Linked DNA regions of Homo sapiens. The protein of the gene in region 1 interacts with the protein of each later gene in a pairwise test. Each region holds a gene or a part of one and is shown on either strand. Other genes may lie near its edges.

The links. The genes of interacting proteins can lie anywhere in the genome.
Region 2: the proteins of ING5 (region 1) and GRIPAP1 interact in binary tests that used the Homo sapiens proteins (3 or more experiments, as listed by UniProt).
Region 3: the proteins of ING5 (region 1) and DEUP1 interact in binary tests that used the Homo sapiens proteins (3 or more experiments, as listed by UniProt).

What each region holds. Positions count from the first base shown.
Region 1 is NC_000002.12:241,705,039-241,712,065, forward strand, and holds part of ING5 (inhibitor of growth protein 5), read left to right. Parts: intron 1-4,177; coding exon 4,178-4,344; intron 4,345-6,338; coding exon 6,339-6,450; intron 6,451-6,939; coding exon 6,940-7,027. UniProt on the Homo sapiens protein: Component of the HBO1 complex, which specifically mediates acetylation of histone H3 at 'Lys-14' (H3K14ac) and, to a lower extent, acetylation of histone H4. Component of the MOZ/MORF complex which has a histone H3 acetyltransferase activity.
Region 2 is NC_000023.11:48,992,238-48,999,264, forward strand, and holds part of GRIPAP1 (GRIP1-associated protein 1), read right to left. Parts: coding exon 7,001-7,027; intron 5,944-7,000; coding exon 5,917-5,943; intron 5,121-5,916; coding exon 5,013-5,120; intron 1,342-5,012; coding exon 1,191-1,341; intron 1-1,190. UniProt on the Homo sapiens protein: Regulates the endosomal recycling back to the neuronal plasma membrane, possibly by connecting early and late recycling endosomal domains and promoting segregation of recycling endosomes from early endosomal membranes.
Region 3 is NC_000011.10:93,333,742-93,340,768, reverse strand, and holds part of DEUP1 (deuterosome assembly protein 1), read right to left. Parts: intron 1-7,027. UniProt on the Homo sapiens protein: Key structural component of the deuterosome, a structure that promotes de novo centriole amplification in multiciliated cells.

The DNA.
Region 1 (7,027 bases):
AAGTTTGGTAGTACTTTTTGGCCGTTTGATATTTAACTCCGTTTCTTTTTTTTTGAGACGGAGTCTTGCTTTGTCGCCCAGTCCGGAGTGCAGTGACGTGATCTCAGCTCACTGCAAGCTCTGCCTCCTGGGTTCACACCATTCTCTTGCCTCAGCCTCCTGAGTAGCTGGGACTACAGGTGCCCGCCACCACGCCTGGCTAATTTTTTTTTTGTATTTTTAGTAGAGACGGGGTTTCACCGTGTTAGCCAGGATGGTCTTGATCTCCTCACCTCATGATCTGCCCGCCTCAGCCTCCCAAAGTGCTGGGATTACAAGCGTGAGCCACCTCGCCTGGCCCTAACTCTGTTTTTTTCTTTTTTTTTTTTTTTTTTTTTGAGACAGAGTCTCACTCTGTTGCCCAGGCTAGAGTGCAGTGGCACGATCTTGGCTCACTGCAACCTCCACCTCCCGGGTTCAAGTGATTCTCCTGCCTCAGCCTCCCGAGTAGCTGGGACTACAGTCACATGCCACCACACCCAGCTAATTTTTTGTATTTTTAGTAGAGACAGGGTTTCACCATGTTCACCATGTTAGCCAGGATGGTCTTGATCTACTGACCTCATGATCCGCCTGCCTAGGCCTCCCAAAGTGCTGGGATTACAGGCATGAGCCACCGCGCCCGGCCCTTAAACTCCCTGTTTCTAAACAACATGTTTTTGTTGCTGTTTCTTATTTTATCTCTCGTCAGTTTTAGACGTTGTTCAGACGTATATGGCACAGGCAGCTGTACTTCTCCAGTGGCCCCCACACCCTCACATGCCCTCACCTGGCTCCCCCATCTCCTGGCTGTAGGTTGTTAGAATTTGTGGTGAGACCAGTGATGGGACTTCCATTGGGCAGCTGTGTAGGTACTTTAACACTGAGCCATGCCACCTGCTGTGCTTATATGACCTCTTTGGAATAACTTTGTGTATTTCTTAGAGTTACTCATGGCCCTGTTTGTTGGCTTTGTTTTCTGCATTCGACCCTTGTCTCCCCAGCTGGGCTTTTCCTTGTGGTCTGTCAGGCTGTCTACCCTGACAGTTCTGTGTGTGCTTTCTTTCCGCAGAGCCCTCTGTCCTGGAGGCCACAGTCCTGATTGTTTCCATGCCAACTGCACACTTGTTGCCCTGAGGTTTTCCTGGGATCTCCTTTCACCCCTCTTCAGTGTGGGACCCTCTTCCCTGAATCTTAAATGTCTTCTTTTTGCCCTTGCTCTCCTGTTTTGATAGAGCCTTTCCTTTGGTAGGTTCCTGAAAAAAAGGCACATAGGAAGGTAGATTTTCTTGGCCAGGCACGGTGGCTCATGCCTGTAATCCCAGCACTTTGGGAGGCTGAGGTGGGCAGATCACCTGAGGTCAGGAGTTCGAGACCAGCCTGATCGACATGGAGAAACCCCGTCTCTACTAAAAATACAAAATTAGCCGGGTGTGGTGGCGCACGCCTATAATCCCAGCTAATTGGGAGGCTGAGGCAGGAGAATCACTTGAACCTGGAGGCGGAGGTTGCACCTGGAGATCGCACCATTGCACTCCACCCTGGGCAACAAGAGCGAAACTCCATCTCAAAAAAAAAAAAAAAAAAGAAAAAAAGGAAGGTAGATTTTCTTGTAACATTGCATGTCTGAAAATGTGTTTGTTCTAGCCTCATACTCAGCTGATAGTTTGGTTGGGTATAGAATCCTAGGTTGACAATTGTTTTCACTCAGGAAGTTGGCGACATTGCTGCCTTGTCTCCTAGCTTCCACGTTGCTGCAGAAAATCTGGTGCCGTTTGGATTCTTGGTCCTTTATATGTGTGATCTATTTTTTTTTTGTTATTCCTATTCAGAAGCTTTTGAGATGTTTCCTTTATCTCTGAAGTTTTAAATTTCATGATAATGTGTTTTGGTGTGGCAATTTTTTTTTTTTTTTTTTTTGAGATGGAGTTTCACTCTTGTTGCCCAGGCTGGCGTGCGATGGCGCGATCTTGGCTCAACACAACCTCTGCCTCCCAGGTTCAAGTGATTCTCCTGCCTCAGCCTCCCGAGTAGCTGGGATTACAGGCATGCACCATCATGCCCAGCTAATTTTGTATTTTTAATAGAGATGGGGTTTCTCCATGTTGATCAGGTTGGTCTCAAACTCTCAACCTCAGGTGATCTGCCCGCCTTGGCCTCCCAAAGTGCTGGTATTACAGGTGTGAGCCACTGTGCCTGGCCTGAGATTTTTTATTCATTATGCTGGGCACAGGTTTGTTTTTTTTGTTTTGAGATGGAGTTTCGCTCTTGTTGTCCAGGCTGGAGTGCAATGGCACGATCTCAGCTCACCGCAACCTCCGCCTCCCGGGTTCAAGCAATTCTCCTGCCTCAGCCTCCCGAGTAGCTGGGATTACAGGCATGCGCCACCACACCCTGCTAATTTTTTGTATTTTAAGTAGAGACGGGGTTTCTCCATGTTGGTCAGGCTGGTCTTGAACTCCTGACCTCAGGTTCATCCACCCGCCTTGGCCTCCCAAAGTGCTGGGATTACAGACGTGAGTACCACACCCGGCCTGGGCACATGTTTTGCAAGACTGAGATAGCTGTGTTTTTTTCCTTAGGTACAGCATCTTGACTAGGGAATACAGAGAGTTATTTTATTGTGAAATGTAACATATATTCAGGAAATGAATGTGCAACAATTATAGATTGCTTAACAAATATTACCAGGTGAACCTCTCTGTTGTCTGCTACCGAGATGGAGAAATCAAGCCCTTTGGCACCTGAAGGCCTTTGTGACCCTCCTAGTCATGACACCCCTCCCCAACCAAGGGGTGACCATCCTGAGTTTGGTGACAGTCACCTTCCACCTTTAACAGTAGTTTTCTTTTTTTTTTCTGAGACGGAGTCTCGCTTTACCATCAGGCTGGAGTGCAGTGGCACGGTCTCGGCTCACTGCAACCTCTGCCTCCTGGGTGCAAGTGATTCTCCTGCCTCAGCCTCCTGAGTAGCTGGGACCATAGGCACGTAACACCATGCCCAGCTAATTGTTGTATTTTTAGAAGAGACGGGGTTTCACCACATTGGCCAGGATGGTTTCCATCTCTTAACCTCGTGATCCTCCTGCCTTGGCCTCCCAAAGTGCTGGGATCACAGGCGTGAGCCGCCGTGCATGGCCTTCAACAGTTTTCTTTTGTTTTTTTTTTTTGAGATGGAGTCTCACTCTTTCGCCCAGGCCGGACTGCAGTGGCGCTATCTTGGCTTTCTTCAAGCCCCGCCTCCTGGGTTCACGCCATTCTCCTGCCTCAGCCTCCCGAGTAGCTGGGACTATAGGCACCCGCCACCACGCCCGGCTAATTTTTTGTATTTTTAGTAGAGACGGGGTTTCATCAAGTTAGCCAGGATGGTCTCGATCTCCTGACCTCGTGATCTGCCCGCCTCGGCCTCCAAAAGTGCTGGGATTACAGGCGTGAGCCACCACGCCTGGCCTAGTTTTCTTACCCCTCTAAACTGAAGGGTTAAGAGTTGTGTCTGTTTCTGCTCTTCATATTAATGGAATCATCCAGTATGTTTTCTTTTGTTTCTTGCTCTTTTTGCTCCGTGTCACCTTCTCTGGGAATCATCCGTGTTGCTGTGTGTGGCTGTAGTTTGCTCTTTTTGTTGCTGAGTAGCACTCTGTTGTCTGAAGGGACCACAGCTTATTTCTCCATTTTACTGAGGATTGGACATTGGGGTTGTTTTCTGTTTTCTGCTCTTATGAATGTTTCCCGTGTGGATTTCTTTAGGTGACATAAGGTTTGTTTAGGGTATTTAAGAGTAGTGTGTTCTTTCTTGACTGCTCTACCGGAAAAAAAGAAAAGGGAAAAAAGAGTAGTATGCCAGGTCATAGGAAAGGTGGCTACAAGTTATTCATACAGGATGTTTGAGAGTCGAAGAAGGCACTGTGACCACTTGCTGTGTAACATTCAGAGCTGGGACTGTCCTGGGCACGTTGCCGTAAAGTCTGCACATTCACACGATCCCAGACTGTTTGTGCAGAACGGTTCTGCCCACTTGCGCTCCCACCAGCACAGCGTGAGTTCATGTCAGCCTACATCTTTGCCACAACTTGGCGTTGGCTGACTTTAGTTGTTGCCAGTCTGGTGAGCACATCATGGTGTCTTGTGCAGGGCTAGCTTTTCCCCCATTTCTCCATCAGATAAGAAAGCAGAGATTGACATCCTGGCTGCAGAGTACATCTCCACGGTGAAGACGCTGTCTCCAGACCAGCGCGTGGAGCGCCTGCAGAAGATCCAGAACGCCTACAGCAAGTGCAAGGAATACAGTGACGACAAAGTGCAGCTGGCCATGCAGACCTACGAGATGGTGAGGGCGGGGCGGGGGCCATGGCTCTTCCTCTGACCTCTACTCCTGCCTCTCATGCAACAAAATGTAAAAACTGCCCGGAAATGGGCATAGCCAAGTGGAAGGCTGGCTTTGGTAGCTGACGCTGCTGGAGGAAGTGCAGACGGAATACACTTCATGTAGGACCATCCCTGTTTTTTTTTTTTTTTTTTCTGGGCCCTTTTTGTTTGTGTATCTGCTCGGAGGAACCATTTGGGTTTTTTTTGAGACAGTCTCACTTTGTCGTCCACGGTGGAGTACAGTGGTGTGATTTCAGCTCAGTGCAACCTCCGCCTCCTAGGCTCAAGTGATTCTTGTGCCTTAGCCTCCCTAGTAGCTGTGATTACAGGCATGCAGCACCACACCCAGCTAATTTTTATATTTTTAGAAGAGACGGGGTTTCACCCTGTTGGCCATGCTGGTCTCGAACTCCTGACTTCAAGTGATCCACTCGCCTCAGCCTCCCAAAATACTGAGATTACAGGCATGAGCCACCGTGCCCGACCTCCAGGTGGCCATATTTTATTTTATTTATTTATTTTATTTATTTATTTATTTTTGAGACAGAGTCTTGCTCTGTCGCCCAGGCTGGAGTGCAGTGGTGTGATCACGGCTCACTGCAACCTCCACCTCCTGGGTTTAAGCGATTCTCCTGCCTCAGTCTCCCGAGTAGCTGAGATTACAGGCATGCAGTAGCCATACTTTATTATTATTATTATTTTTGAGATGGACTTTTGCTCTTGTTGCCCAGGCTGGAGTGCAATGGTGCTATCTCGGCTCACTGCAACCTGTGCCTCGCAGGTTCAAGCAATTCTCCTGCCTCAGCCTCCTGAGTAGCTAGGATTACAGTCACCCACCACGAAGCCTGGCTAATTTTTGTAGTTTTATTTTTTTATTTTTGTATTATTTATTTAGTTTTTGAGACAGGGCCTCACTGTGTCGCCCAGACTAGGGTGCAGTGGCATGGCTGCAGTTCAGTGCAACCTCCACTTCCCAGGCTCAAGCGATTCTCCTGCCTCAGCCTCCTAAGTAGCTGGGATTACAGGTGTGCACCACTACCAACAGGCTAATTTTTGTTTTTGGTTTTTGGTTTTTTTTTTTGAGACAGAGCTTCGCTCTTGTTGCTCAGGCTGGAGTGCAATGCCACGATCTTGGCTCACTGCAACCTCTGCCTCCTGGGTTCAAGCGATTCTCCGGCTTCAGCCTCCTGAGTAGCTGGGATTACAGGCATGCGCCACCAAGCCCGGCTAATTTTGTATTTTTGGTAGAGATGGGGTTGCTCCATGTTGGTCAGGCTGGTCCTGAACTCCCGACCTCAGGTGATTGACCTGCCTCAGCCTCCCAAAGTGCTGGGATTACAGGTATGAGCCACCGTGCCTGGCCTGTATTTTTAATAGAGATGGGGTTTTGCCATGTTGGCCAGGCTGGTCTTGAATTCCTGACCTCAAATGATCCACCTGCCTCGGTCTCCCAGAGTGCTGGGACTACAGGCGTGAGCCACCGCGCCTGCCCTAATTTTTGTATTTATTTTAGAGATGGGATTTTACCATGTTGGTCAGGCTGGTTTTGAACTCCTGACCTCAGGTGATCAGACTGCCTCGACCTCCCAAAGTGCTGGGATTACAGGTGTGAGCCGCTGCACCTGGCCTCCAGGTAGCCATATTTTAAAGTAGGGTTCAGCGTCAGATATCCCAGGCCTTGTTCACTGCATTTCACAACTCTGCTTCTCATTATTGCCCACACTCATGTCTTTTCCCTAAATGGGATTTATTCCATTGCAATGTCAAAATATGCAGAAAAAGCACAAGACCCTTGCATGGACTTTGAAATAGTGGGCCTTGTTTTAGCAGAGGTTTGTTCATTGGAGACTCAATTAAAGGGCAAGAAGGTGTTTCCTGGTGGATACTTTTGTACATTCGTGATTCTGAGGTGTTTTGGTTTTACTTTAAAATAAGACTTTGGGTATCCTTTTGTAGGTGGATAAACACATTCGAAGGCTTGATGCAGACCTGGCGCGCTTTGAAGCAGATCTGAAGGACAAGATGGAGGGCAGTGATTTTGAAAGCTCCGGAGGGCGAGGGTTAAAAAGCAAGTCTGTTAATTTTTTTTCTTTATTTTATTACTGTTAACTATGGAGTTTTGAAGAGTTTTGTCACGGTAAATCATTAAAGTATGATCACTAGGGTAAGTATCATATTTGGGTAAACCTTGTCTTGCAGGCTGGGTGTGGTGGCTTACGCCTGTAACCCCAGCACTTTGGGAGGCTGAGGCAGGAGGATCACTTGAGGCTAGGAGTTTGAGACCAACCTGGGCAACATAGCGAGACCTCATCTCAACAAAAAATTTAAAAATTAGCCAGGTGTGGTGGTGCACACCTGTGGTCCCAGCTACTCGGGAGGCTGAGGTGGGTGGATTGCTTGAGCCCGGGAGGTCAAGGCTGCGGTGAGCTATGATTGCTCCGCTGCACTCCAGCCAGCCTGGGAGACAGAGCGAGACCCCTTTTTAAAAACAAAACACAAAACTTGCCTTGCTTTAGAGAATTCTATAAAAATAATTTGCATCTTGATTATTTTTCAGAAGGCCGGGGTCAGAAAGAAAAAAGAGGGTCCCGGGGCCGAGGCAGGAGGACATCAGAGGAAGACACACCAAAGAAAAAGAAGCACAA
Region 2 (7,027 bases), on another chromosome or scaffold:
TCAGGCGATCTGCCCACCTTGGCCTCCCAAAGTGCTAGGATTACAGGTGTGAAACACCGTGCCTGGCCTAATTATTTTATTTTTAGTACACACAAGTTCCTGCTATGTTGCCTAGGCTGGTCTTAAACTCCTAGCCTCAAGAGATCCTTCTGCCTCAGCCTCCCAGAGTGCTGGAATCAAGGTATGAGCCACTGTGCCCAGGCTCTCACAAATATTTTAAGCCCTATCAACCACTAAGATTCTGTTTACTATTAAATTAGCCCAAGCTGGTTTCACAAATCCCATTCTCAATCCTTGAAGCCCCACCCATAGCCCTTGAAGGCCATGCCCACCATATGCTACCACTGACTTACAGCTGAATCCCTCCTAGAGCCTCCTAATTCCTACTCACATTCTACTAAGTCTCCCTCCTGGTCATGGAACCAGCATCCATCACCACAGAAGTCCCAGCTGCTCTCCAAAGTTCCACACACCACATGCTCCCACACTCTATCAAGCTTTCTTTCAGCTTTCATCCCAGACCCCACTTACAATCTGGGCTCAGAATCTTCCCAACACTCCATTCACTTTTTCACTTAGCAAATATCTCCTTTTTTTTTTTGAGATGGAGTCTCGCTCTGTCGCCCAGGCTGGAGTGCAGTGGTGTGATCTCGGCTCACTGCAAGCTCCACCTCCCAGGTTCACACCATTCTCCTGCCTCAGCCTCCAGAGTAGCTGGGACTACAGGCGCCCGCCACCGTGCCCGGCCAATTTTCTGTATTTCTAGTAGAGACGGGGTTTCACCATGTTAGCCAGGATGGTCTTGATCTGCTGACCTCGCAATCCGCCCGCCTCAGCCTCCCAAAGTGCTGGGATTACAGGCGTGAGCCACCGCGCCCGGCCGCAAATATCTCCTTTTTGACATTCAAGCTGCTAATCTGTAACATCTGCTAGGTACCAGACACTGAACTAATGCAGAATGATATCACCTTTTATCTCTACTACAATCTTCTGGGTGACAGACATCACTACATGCACTGTGTAGATGATAAGGCTTTGGCTCAGAGAGGTGAAATGGCTTGTCCAAAGCCACACAGGGCATGGGCCAACCCTATTTCTGAAGCCCTTCTCCTTCCCCTGAGAGGATGACGGCCTTCCTTGCCCTACTCAAGCCCCAATGTCTCCGCATCCCCAGGAGGGCCTCTATGCACCTGCCACGTTCTTCTGCAAGGCTGTGTTTTCAGCCTGTAGCCTCAGCAGCTCCCCATCCACGAGGGGCCCAGCTTGGGCAACCCCTGCTCCTGCAGCCCCCTCCTTCAGTTGCTGGTTCTCTTGCTCCAGCTGTTCCATCTGGCTGCAGAGCTGAACAGAGGAAGAGAAGGGGCAGAGAAGCAGAGAATCAGAGCAGTATTTGCTGAAACCTACATAGCATTTGTCCATGTACTTTACAATTCACTTAATTCCCATAATGACCCTATGATATAGGTGCCCTCCCACTTTACAAATAAGGACATTGAGGCACAGAGATGTTAAACAAGTTCAAATTCACACATCTTTTAAGTGGCAGAGTCAGAGAATACCAAGAGCATACCAAGTATGAGGACACCAAAAACCATTTTCCTCTTCCTACTCCCAACCTCAGAGATGCAATCCAAGACCTCAGGCTCCTCTGGAAGTTGTTAGTGCTACAGACAGCCTCACTGCAACCCCTCTTCTGTGGAGGGCTGGATCCTGGGCCCAGAGATAGCTCCCTCTCATCCTAAGCACCACAAAGAGCTCGCAGGGCATTTCCAGGGCCAACACTGATGACAGCTCCTGCATTGCCAGCCGTTAGTCTTGGAGAGGTATACAATGCCAATACAACTAAGCCAGCCCCCTGCCCAACTCCTGGCTGAAGTACACTTCTCAAAGCAGTCCTGAGAAAATTCCTTGTCCCCATTTTCAGATGAGAATATCGAGGCCTACAGAGAATTTTTATTTTATTGCCTGCAATATTTTCTTTCTTTTTTTTTTTTTTTTTTTTTTGAGATGGAGTCTCGCTCTGTCACCCAGCCTGGAGTACAGTGGCACGATTTCAGCCCACTGCAACCTCCGCCACCCGGGTTCAAGTGATTCTCCTGCCTCAGCCTCCTGAGTAGCTGGGACTACAGGCATGCGCCACCGTGCCCGGCTAATTTTTGTATTCTTATTAGAGACGGGGTTTCGCCATGTTGGCCAGGCTGGTCTTGAACTCCTGACCTCAGGTGATCCACCTGCCTCGGCCTCCCAAAGTGCTGGGATTACAGGCATGAGCCACCGCACCCGGCCTGCTTGCAATATTTTCTACCCAGAACACCAATCCTCTCATCCAGTTCTTCACCTAACTGGCTTCTTTGCATCCCTCAGTGCTCTGCTCAGATGTTGCCTTTAAAGTAGTATCCCTCAACACAGAAAATTCCAGTACTCTCTGTCACAGCACTGTTCATTTCTTTCTTACCTAGTACTAATCAAAATTTTCTTTTGTAACAAGCACAGATTCTGAAACCAGACTGCTTGAATGTGAATTTCTGCTCTGCCATTTACTAGCTGTGTGACAAATTACTTAATCTCCCTGGAACTCAGTTTTCCTCATCTGTCAGATAGGGATACTAATATCTCATAGGCTTATTTCAAAGATTAAATGAGTGAATAATGTAGAGTACTTCAAACAGGACTTGGCACACAGTAAGCACCATATAAATGTCAGCTATCACTACTAGTATTATTTGTTTACTGTTATCATCTTTCTCCTCATCCCACCCCCAGAATGTAAGCTACCCAAGAGTGGAGATCATTCTGTGCTGCTTACAACTGTATTTCCAGAACATAGAGCATGTGGTGGGTACTCAGTAACTATTTGTCGAAGGAACAATTAAGCTGAAATGTCTTGATGAATAAGGGGTGGTGGCAGGTTTAACGTAGCTCTCTCTGAGAGCACTTCCAGTTCCTGGGAGGAGTTGGAGGAGGAAGGGGACTATGTAGGAAGTCTCTACGACTAGCCCAGTGCTGGCCCAGGGCAGATGCAGGGAAACAAGCTGGATTTATGGAAGAATGTCTGCCCCTGCCTCACTCTGCAAGAATCATGATACCATGGAGGCTGGAGGCAGGAAGCAGTGAGGAGTCAGTCAGTGAAGCCAGCAGTTATGTGAATACCAGGGGCTCTGAACTAGGAGCAGGACTGGGGCACTGGAATGTATTAAGTAAAGGAGTGATGTCATAAGATCTGCAGGTCAGAACAGCCTCTGTGGTGTGAACTAAGTAGAAGAAACTAGAAGTGAAGAGACCAGGGAGGCGGCTGTAGAAACAGCAGATGATAAGTGGTAGAGGCTAAGGCAAAGCAGGGCCACAGGGTGGATATAAAACTTTTTTTTTTTAAATTGAGACAGAGTCTTGCTCTGTCGCCCAGGCTGGAGTGCAGTGGTGCAATCTTGGCTCACTACAACCTCCGCCTCCCGGGTTCAAGCGATTCTCCTGCCTCAGCCTCCCGAGTAGCTGGGACTACAGGCACGTGCCACCACACCCGGCTAATTTTTTGTATTTTTAGTAGAGACGGGGTTTTACCACGTTAGCCAGGATGGTCTCCATCTCCTGACCTCATGATCTGCCTGCCTTGGCCTCCCAAAGTGCTGGGATTACAGGCCTGAGCCACCACGCCCGGCCATAAAACTTTTAAAAAGTCAAATATTTTAGAGGGAAGATGAGTTAATAGAAGGATAATATTATAACTAATGCTTCCATAGCTGATACTATGTGCAAGGCTCTGTTTTAAGTGATTTACGTACATTTATTCATTTAATCCTCACAAAAGCCCTGTGAAGAGGCAGGTACTGTTATTATCATGACTTCCATTTTAAACATTTGGGAACCAAGAACCAGGCAAGTTAAGTAACTTCCTCAAGGTTACAGTTAGTAAAAGGTAGAGCCAAGATTTTAATCTAGGCCTTCTGGTTCCAGAGTCCCTGCTGGTACCTACTACTTGCTCAACTGCCTCTCCTGGTATTGTACCTGCTTAAAGGTTATTTTCGGTTTTGTTTTTTTAAGGTCATAGGCACTATATTCTCAGATGGAGCCTTAGAAATACCATTTTTGGGCCGGGCGCGGTGGCTCACGCCTTTAATCCCAACACTTTGGGAGGCCAAGACGGGTGGATCACCTGAAGTCGGGAGTTCAGGACCAGCCTGACCAACATGGTCATTTTCTCTACTAAATGTCCTCTCCCACCCATGTCATTTTCTCTCATCTCTACTAAAAATACAAAGTTAGCCAGGCATGGTGGCATATGCCTGTACTTCCAGCTACTTGGGAGGCTGAGGCAGGAGAATCGCTTGAACCCAGGAGGCAGAGGTTGCAGTGAGCTGAGATCATGCCATTGCACTCCAGCCTGGACAATGAGAGTGAAACTCCATCTCAAAAAAATTTGCTGCCATGAGACTTTTTTCCTTAAAACACACTAAAAACATAGACAATTATCAACTGTGGATACAGAAGATAGATGAGGGAACAAAAGACAATGTCTCCAACTGCCCAGTAGATTTAGAAACAGACAGGACACTAAAATCAATGGGGAGATAGAATTAGTAGCTCCAGGATGAATTATCTGGAAGAGGTAGAACCCCAGGCTCATGTCAGATGAAGAGAAGAAAGAGAAAAGGGAAGAAGCTCGAACACTTTTCCATCCTATATTAAGCATAAGAACTCTGCCTAAAACCCCCCAACACCTTGGAGCACCACAGCATCAACCCCACATTATACACATGGAGACTTGAAGCTCAAATAAAAGGAGTGACTTGGCCAGGAACCAGGTGACCTCAGGGCTCAAAGCCTTCTAATCCCAGCAGAGTGAGCGGCCCCATCTGTCAAATTACTGCCCCCCAGCAGCAATCCAGGACCTGTTTCAGCACCACGGACAGTGCTCCAGGGCCAGACCCTGTCCAATCACTCTCTGCCGCTGTTAGGTTTCAGCCCAGATGACCCCTACCCCTCATTTCCCCTTTGACTATCCCAGGCACCAGCACCTTGCTGAACTCGGCCATTAGTGTGCTGTTCTGCAAACGGAAGTCCTCCTCCTGGCTGTGCAGCTTTGCCTGCAGCATCTCATTTTCACTCAGCAATACCTCGACTTCCTGCAGTGGCAGACAAGGGCCAGGACTCCAGCAAGGGCAAAAAGGATAGGGAGGTAGGGCAAAGAAACAGAGAGAGGGAGAAAATGACATGGGTGGGAGAGGACATAGGGTACAGAGAATGAGGTGATATAGGAGAAAGAGACATGGGGAGGGATAAAATGAGAGACAGGGAAAGGAAGATAAAGACATGGGAAGGTAGAGAGAAGGGAATACAGGGAGGAAGAGAGCGGAGGAAAAGACAGGAAGATAATGATTGGGGAGAGAGGAAGTAGAGATGGGGAAAGGGGGAGAGATAGAAAAGGGGAGAGGGATTGGGAGGGAGAGAGTGAAAAAGACGGAGAGAAGAACAAACAGAAATCAACAGGGAGAGAACAGAACAGGGAGAAGAGGAGGGGTCAGGAAAAGAAATGAGTTAGGAAGAGAGAGGAATGGGGTGGAAGAAACAAGGAGTTAGAGAGAGAAAGCAGAAAAAAGAGAAATCACCGAGACAGGAACAGGAGGGGGAGAGACAAAGAGAAGATTGGGAAGAGAAATGAGTCAGAGAGACAGGAACAGGAAAACAGACAGAGACAGAAAGAGACTCAGAGAAAAGAATGGAAAGAGAGAGAAGGAAAGAGACACAGAGTTAGGACAAATACAGGGAAACAAGGACAGATACAGCAACACATGGCAGTGAGGTAGTAGCAGATGTAAAGGCACACAAAGAAAGAAAGGCCAGTACAAGGAAATATCAGCATACAGAAATAGCCCACCAAGACATCTCCCAGTCACACTCACCCACAAGGGATCCCCTTACCTGAGCTTTCTTGCTCTTGCTCAGTGCCTAAAGTGGGGGTGGGTGGGAAGAGAGCTAAAGTGAACAGAGATGGACTGCCTTACTAGGATATGGAGACAATTGTGCCAAGCGTTTTGGGAGGACAAGGATGACAGGGGTTGCAGGATGGGAGCATCTTCAACCACAGAACATGTGTGACAATTTGGAGCCCAAAGGAATGATGGAATGAGTGTGTGAGTGAGTGAATGAATGCAAGTCTTGCCCTGGGGCCCCAGCACACATAAATCATCCTTTCTTGGAAGCTCTTGAGGCTGGTGGGGGGACAGGGGAGGTAGGGAGATGCCCTGGTATTTAACCATTTATGGGCTGGATCTCCAGACTCAGAAACTGTGGCTTCATTGCTACATCTGTCCATACATGTCTCTGTGGGTCCCTCCCACGCAGTGTGGAAACTGTCGCTCCCCTACTGGGCAGCCAAGAGCATTGCCAGCTTAGGGGAATCAGCATCCTACCAAAGAGAAGTGCAGCTTCCTGACTGTCGGATTTTCTGCATACTGTATTCGTTCATCCAACAAATATTTATTGAGCACATATTATGTATTAACATTGTGCTAGGTATGGCTAGATATGGGGACAGAGCAGTGACAAAGGAGCACCTCGAATGTCTTGAGGGGCCACAATAGGTTATATCCTATCTCATCTTTAGAGGATCTGAGAGGTGGGTTTGCTCTCATTTTCCCAACTGGACCAGGACAGAGATGGGAAGTAGGAGCACAAGGCAGGAGTGTGAGTAGAGGATGGGAGGCAGATTCGAGGTAGATTTACTGATAGATTTGAATATTTAATTAAAAGTCAGTGAATGAGAATGAGTAACTGAAATTAGAAATGAATTAAAAGTAAATTAAAATTAATCACTAAATTAAGCAGGATTAGGTAAAATTAGCAACTAAAGAGAATTCCATTGAGAATCCTTTAAATGACTACGTGAAAACAGCATGCAACATTAGGTCTGGTTCACTGTAGGTGCTCACTGGAGGGATGAATGAGTCAGATAGGTAGAAGCAAGGGTGGATGGGTAGGTGGATGGGTGGGTGGAGGGAGGTACCTTCTGAGCTTTGCTGAACTCCTTATC
Region 3 (7,027 bases), on another chromosome or scaffold:
ACCATCCTTTGTTCATCATCTTCTCACACACTCCATATCCAATCCAGGATCTATAACATTGTCAGCTATTTCATGAAAACAAACCCATTTGTCACTATGTCTACATCTATCAATCTGATCTACTGTCATCTCCCACAGCTTAGCTTGTCTGCCTTTTCAACCCTTACCCTCCTATGGTCTATTCTTCCCATAGCAACTAGAGCGAGCCTTTTAAAATATTAAGTCAGAAAATGTCACTCCCTTGCTCAGAGTCCTCCAGTGACTTCCCATTTTACACAGTGAAATCTGAAGCCTTGACTAAGGTCTGTGAGGCCCTTCAGGACTTGGCCCTATTTGCCTTTCTGAGGTCATCTCCTACCACTTTCCCCCTTGCTTCCTCCTCTCTAACTGGCCTCTTTTCTGTTCCTTGAAAACGTCAATCATGTTCCTGTTGCAGAAGCTTTGCTTTTGCTGATTCCTCTGCCTGGAATGCCATTCCCCCAGATATCCAGATGTCTACATCTCTCACTTTTTTTAGGTCTTTCTTCAAATGTCACCTAACCAGATTTACTCTGTAACTCTCTATTCTCATAATCTGCTTACTTTTTCTACATAGTGATTATTACCACCCCCAACATAATATAGATTTATTTATTTGCTATAATCTGTTTCCCTCCACTAGACTGTAAGCTCCAATGAGGTCTCTGATACCATCGCAGAGCCATAGTATCAGCTCTAAATTTCCCACCTCCAGAAAAATAGGAACCCTAATTTGCTTGGGTATTATATTACGAGCTTCTGGTTTTTATTTGAATTTTGTGTTTTAGCAGACCCCTTCTGACAATACTCCAGCAGGGGAATAGAATGCCACCTCATTACTGCCAGACAGTGGTGGAAGTTCAGGTTCTCGACTCAGCCTCTGTTGCCACTTGGAGGGAGGAACTCCTCATTACTGCTGGGTGGGGGTGACAGTTCAGGCCCCTAGTAGCTCTGCACTGATACCACCTTGGCTGGGACGGGTAGGGATGCCTCATTACTCTTTCCTACGTGGCCTCCTCCGACACTGTGTAAGGTGGGTTCCCTCGTTATCATTACCACTCAAAGTGTCTTGCGTTCCTTTGCTATGGTAAGTCTCCCTTGGGGTTGTTGGTGATTTGAGGCAAGATTTGGATATTCCTGAGTCCCTGGGCCATTGCACCAATTATGCCTCATATGCCACCTGTTTCTAATATAAATGGATAGCCTCTATGGGTAATTTGACTAGCTGTCCTTTATAAGCCAGCTCTTTTGTTGATTCATCTTTTTATTTTCCTATTCTTGAACCATTTTAAGTAGTGTATAACTTGAAGATTTATAAGATTAGCATAAAGTATTTGCATTTTCCCCTTTCTCCTTTTTAGAGAAAATTTGGAAACCATTTCATTGCATGGATTGTATAGTGCACCTAGCTGTGTGCTGCTCATCTTGTACTCTAGCATTTGTACAGATTATAGGTATAGTTACTCCACGGCACTATGGGTTGGCCAGTGGATTTCCCCATAAATGGCTATGCCATATATGTTTGTGCTTTAATATGGCAACATGTGAAACATATTTCTGTCATTCTATAACACTTTCTATTATAAGAAGCAACAATAACTTAATAATTGCTTTTAGAGGAAACAGGGAATAATAGCCAAATGTATCTTCTGATTTCAAGACACAACCTAACTTAAATAACATTTAAGGGTGAAAACTGTGAGTCTTAGTATGTTACCCTTGGAGAGTCCATGAAAGCACATGGGTATGTTTTGTCCCTGGCTGAAGCCATTCCTATGTAACCATTCCCCATACATTCTCCAATTAAAAAGGCAAGTCCTCAATACCCCAAGTGTATCTATGAAAATAGTCCTGGATTCTCTTCATTTTTTCACACCCTGCTTTTATACAACCTCATTTCTATCTAATTCTGAACTCTTGATTCAACTCTTCTCTAGTCTTTTGAAATTGGTATTTATATTTTATTTCCCTGTTGTTTGACAGTTTATTGCCTTTAATAAGCTGTCATTCTTTCAGTTCACTCATTCATTCAACAAATGTTGACTGAGCTGGGAGCAGTGGTTCATGCCTGTAATTCTAGCACTTTGGGAGGCCAAAGTGGGAGGATTGCTTGAGTCCAGGAGTTCAAAACCAACCTAGGCAACATAGTGAGACCCTACCACTACAAAAAACAAAACAAAAAGATTGCCAGTCTTGGTGGTGTGTACCTCCCAGCTACTCAGGAGGCTGAGGTGGAGGATTGCTTGAGCCCAGGAGGCTGACATTGCAGGAAGCCAAGATCACACCACTGTACTCCAGCCTGGGTGACAGAGCAAGACCCTGCCTCAGGAAAAAAAAAAAAAAAAAGTTGACTGCATAATTACCCTATGTCAGGCACTGTGCTTGTCCCTGTGGTGTGACAGAAGAGAAGACAAAACATTGCTGAACAGAGCTAGGGCCCCTGGAATACGCTGGCCTATAGTGTTATAGGACCAACTTCTTAACGTTCTTATTACCACTGATACTTGTGTTGCTACTTCTCTTGCCAGCTTTTCTATTTTTGTCTCTATTTCTCCTTTTCCTTCTGCTTCTTGAGTTCAAGGAGGGTACAACTTTTATACTAACTGCTGTCCAATGAGACTGCTTCTTTCTTTTGGGGAGAGAACAAACGCACTCATCACATATCTGTAATATTCATGTTTTTAGCACTTCTCTGTTTCACCAGTGCTCTGATTAGAGGCTCACAAAGTCCCAGGTGGTTCCAAGGTGCCATACAACTAAGCACCATAGACAACCAGGTCAGGTTAGGTGGGATGCACCTGATGTACATATCTACATTCACACATATCAGATTTTTAAGAAAATGTATGTTGTAACTAATCTTTTGTAAAGATTTTCCTGTGAAACGTATGTGCAAATTTATCCTACACAGTGGTACTTTTTCATCTTTCCTTAAACTTACTAGCAGTTTGATTAGGTCTCTTGTAGAAATCTTCCCTTTCTTTCCTTATTTCCTTCCTCCCTCTCTCTCCTTCCTAATAACTTTCCTTCCTTTCAAAAACATGCATTTAATTCCTACAGTCACTCAGCACTGCTAACATTTCAGAGTCTACCGTCAAGTTTGACATGTCAGGATTTTAACCCAGATGTACTTTACTTTGTTTCTTCTTCAGAGATACAAGAAACTGGAAGAACTTGTCCAGTTTGATTACTCTGGGGAGGAATATACGTGTATATGGGGGGAGGTGAATAAAGTATGAAGAGAGGGAGAGTAAGGGGGTACAGTCTGGGCTAACCAGAAAGCAAGGGAATTAACCAAATTTAAAAAGAATTTTCAATGTGCAAAAATAATATATAATTTATTCAGGTACCAATATGTTGACTTACATCAGAAAAATTAGATTTTATTTTATAAACTGTAATTAAAACTGTGTTTAACTCATCAAGAACCTGGTAAGTAAAGTTATGATTCATAAAGTCAAGAACCTGGTAAGTAAAGTAAAGATGATTAATATATCTCAGAGGGAAAGAATACTTTAAGGGTTAAGAAAGATGCACACAAAAAGAGTATAGTTTTAAAGGACCTTTTGAATCAGATGCAAGAAGTTATGATTTAATATTCATCTACCTTGGTTCTTTGAAAATAATGACTTTCACAGCAGATAAGAAGAATCTGGTGGATCACGTAGCAGTACCTAGATGTTTAGGAAGCATTTGACAAGATTCTATGAATGAGATCAATGGCTAAGATAAAAGTCACAGAATAAAAGGTACAGTAAAAGATTCAGTAGAGAAAAATGAGAATTTGGTTGAAGATGTATGCACACACATTTTGTTCCCTCCCCAAATCCTACTAACACAAAGTAAAGGGATATTTTTAACCTAGAAGGTCAAACCTAGAAGGATAAAAATAACAGGAACTAGCAGTGGACAAAGCCAAGTAGCAAACCAACTAGATACATCTGGAAGTAGCAAGTGAGTGTCAGCCTGAAAACAGGAGGAATGGCTAAGAAGGGGTTGACTCCTAGATCTCCTCACTGGCATTCGAATCCAGGCATATTCTCTGGAGAAGCTAAAACAGAAAGGCTCTGGACTGGGGTTGGGGAACACCAGGTACAGTAGATGGCAGGACCACTGTACTGGAAACTGGGGGGGTTAAGGTCAACAATGTAAGTCTGAATTCAGCCCCCTCATCCTTTTCAGCTCCCAGAATGCTGGTATACTCTCCAGGTAGGAAATTAGAATTCTCTGGAATCTGATTAGCCTGAGACAAAAGACTGAAAGAGAGTGACCTGGGGTCCTGCAAGGAAACTGCCTAGTCTGATGACTATGGAGTAAAGACCACTGTCAATAAGCCCGCTGATATGGTTGGCTCTGTGTCCCTAACCAAATCTCATGTCGAATTGTAATTCCCAGTGTTGGAGGAGGGGCCTGGTGAGAGGTGACTGAATCATGAGGGCGAACTTCCCCCTTGTTGTTCTTGTGATAGTGAGTTCTCAGGAGATGCAACTCCCCCCTTCTCTCTCTCTCCCTCCTGCTCTGGCCACATAAAACATGCCTCCTTCCTCTTCGCCTTCTGCCATGATTGTAAGTTTCCTGAGGTCTCCCCAGCTATGCTTCCTATTTGTTTTTTGGGTTTTGTTTTTTGTTTTTGTTTTGAGATGGAGTTTTGTTCTTGTTGCCCAGGCTGGAGTGGAATGGCACAATCTCGGCTCACTGCAACTTCCGCCTCCCGGGTTCAAATGATTCTCCTGCCTCAGCCTCCTGAGTAGCTGGTATTACAGGCATGCACCACCACACCAGGCTAATTTTTATTTTTAGTAGAGACGGGGTTTCTCCATGTTCGTCAGGCTGGTCTTGAACTCCCAACCTCAGGTGATCCACCTGCCTTGGCTTCCCAAAGTGCTGGGATTACAGGCGTCAGCCACTGCACCTGGCCTCTATTTGTTAATCTAACCATATGCTATTTATATGTGGAGAAAAACTTGATATGACCTAAAAAAGGTTGAAAACAAGGTGATGAACAAAGATATTATTGATTAAAGTAAACTAAAAAGAAAGCAGGGATGGTAATATTAATATCAGGCAAAGTAGAATTAAAACAGAAAACATTAGTTTATACTTGTGCTATATTTTATAATGTTAATCATATAATATGCTGAGAAGATATACGCATAAACCTTGACACATCAAGCAACAGAACACTGAAATATGTAAACCAAAAATTGTTAGTAATACAAGAAGGACTAGACAAACTACAATTATAGTGAAGATCTTCCTTAGAATTTGACAGATCAAATAAACAAAAATTAATGTAACTGTACTTGAAAAACACAAGTTAAACATAATAACAACAATTAAAATGTTTGATTATATAACTTTTTTAGCCTTTTTACTCAACCAAAAGAGAACATACATGTGTTTTCAAATACCCAAAGGACATTAATAAAAGTTGATCCTGCAATAGACTACAAGAATAATCTTAGTGAAATTGACAGAGTCAAAATCATATAGTCCATATCCTATGACTATGACAGTAGAAAGATTAAAAAGTAATAATAAAAAGATAACTAAATGCCCCTTGAAATTACATTTTGTAAATATCTCTTGAGTCAAAGAAGATATCAAATTTGAAATGATAGATTATTTAGAAAATGATGGTGAGAACACTAACCCTATGGCAGGCAGCAAAGCTGTGCTCAGGAGGAAACTTACATGCTTTTATTATTTAAAGAAATCATGAAATCCAGAAATCATGAAAATAACTGAAGCACATTTTTCAACCCATGGGAACAAGATAGAATAAACCATAAAAGGGAAAACTAGTAAGTAGAAATTCATGAATAAGAAAACAAAAACAAAGCAAAACCTAGAGAAGGTTTTCTTAAAAAGGCCAATAAAAGGGATCACTTATTCTATAATTATGTTCTGGAAACACACTTTAAAAACAAAAAGAACAAACATAAAATTGAGTTTCAATTACAAGGAGTTTAGATTATTATGGCACAAATACAAACACCTATAATTGGAAGAAATCATGGATAAATTAACATCAAACCCGGTTATAACCATGATATCAGAGAATATTGATTCACTCACACTGAAAATGTTCTGTGGGAAAGCTCCCACCATAGGCCTTGGCACTTTCTGCTCCTGCTCTGTGTAATCTTTTCCCCAGATATAATCTCTGCTCGAATGCTGCCTTACCAAAGTATCTTTATTTGACCACTCCATTCACACTCTCTATTTTTCCCACCCTTAGCCTGCTTTATTTTTCTTCATATCACCATATGATACAAATTTATACGTTTATTATCTGTCTCTTCCACTATGGTATAAGCCCCTTGAGAAGAAGTTGTCTATTTTGTTCACTGCTACCTTCCTGGTGCCTAGACCAGTAAGTAGCTCACAGTAGACTCTAAATAGGTATCTGTTAAATGTAGGCTGCTCCACAAAACATTACTGTATATGTAGATGACATGGTTTAATAAGCTACATAACAAGTCCCTGATGATGAAGTTTTATTGTATTCATGATCTAGATTTATACATAACTCTCAATAGCATGTGGGACTGAGGCAATGCCAACCTGGGGTCTCCATGCTTTGGAGACCGTGGTAGGCAGTGTGTGGACCCATGTCTACTGTGATGAGTGGAACAGTACCTCAGGAAAACCTCTAAAAACTCTCATTAACTTGGGGGGTTGTAATTACACCATACCCAAACAAGTTCTACTGTTCCTTACTAAATTCTAAGTTCTTTAAAGACAAGGTCTGTTTCTTAAATGACTCCATGGCCTTGGATTTGTAGGAGTGAAGTGATATCTGGGACCCAACCTTAGGTTCAACATCTTCAATCTGCATCTTAGCTCTTAGTGCTATCATCACACCAGGGACCCAACACATACTTAACCCAGAATCCTAACCTGGCTCTGCTATGGATACCAGGCAGGCTGCTCCCTGCATCTCATTGCCATCCATTTCCAATGTAGGAAGGAACACAGGGATTGGAGCCAGGCATACCTGAATTCA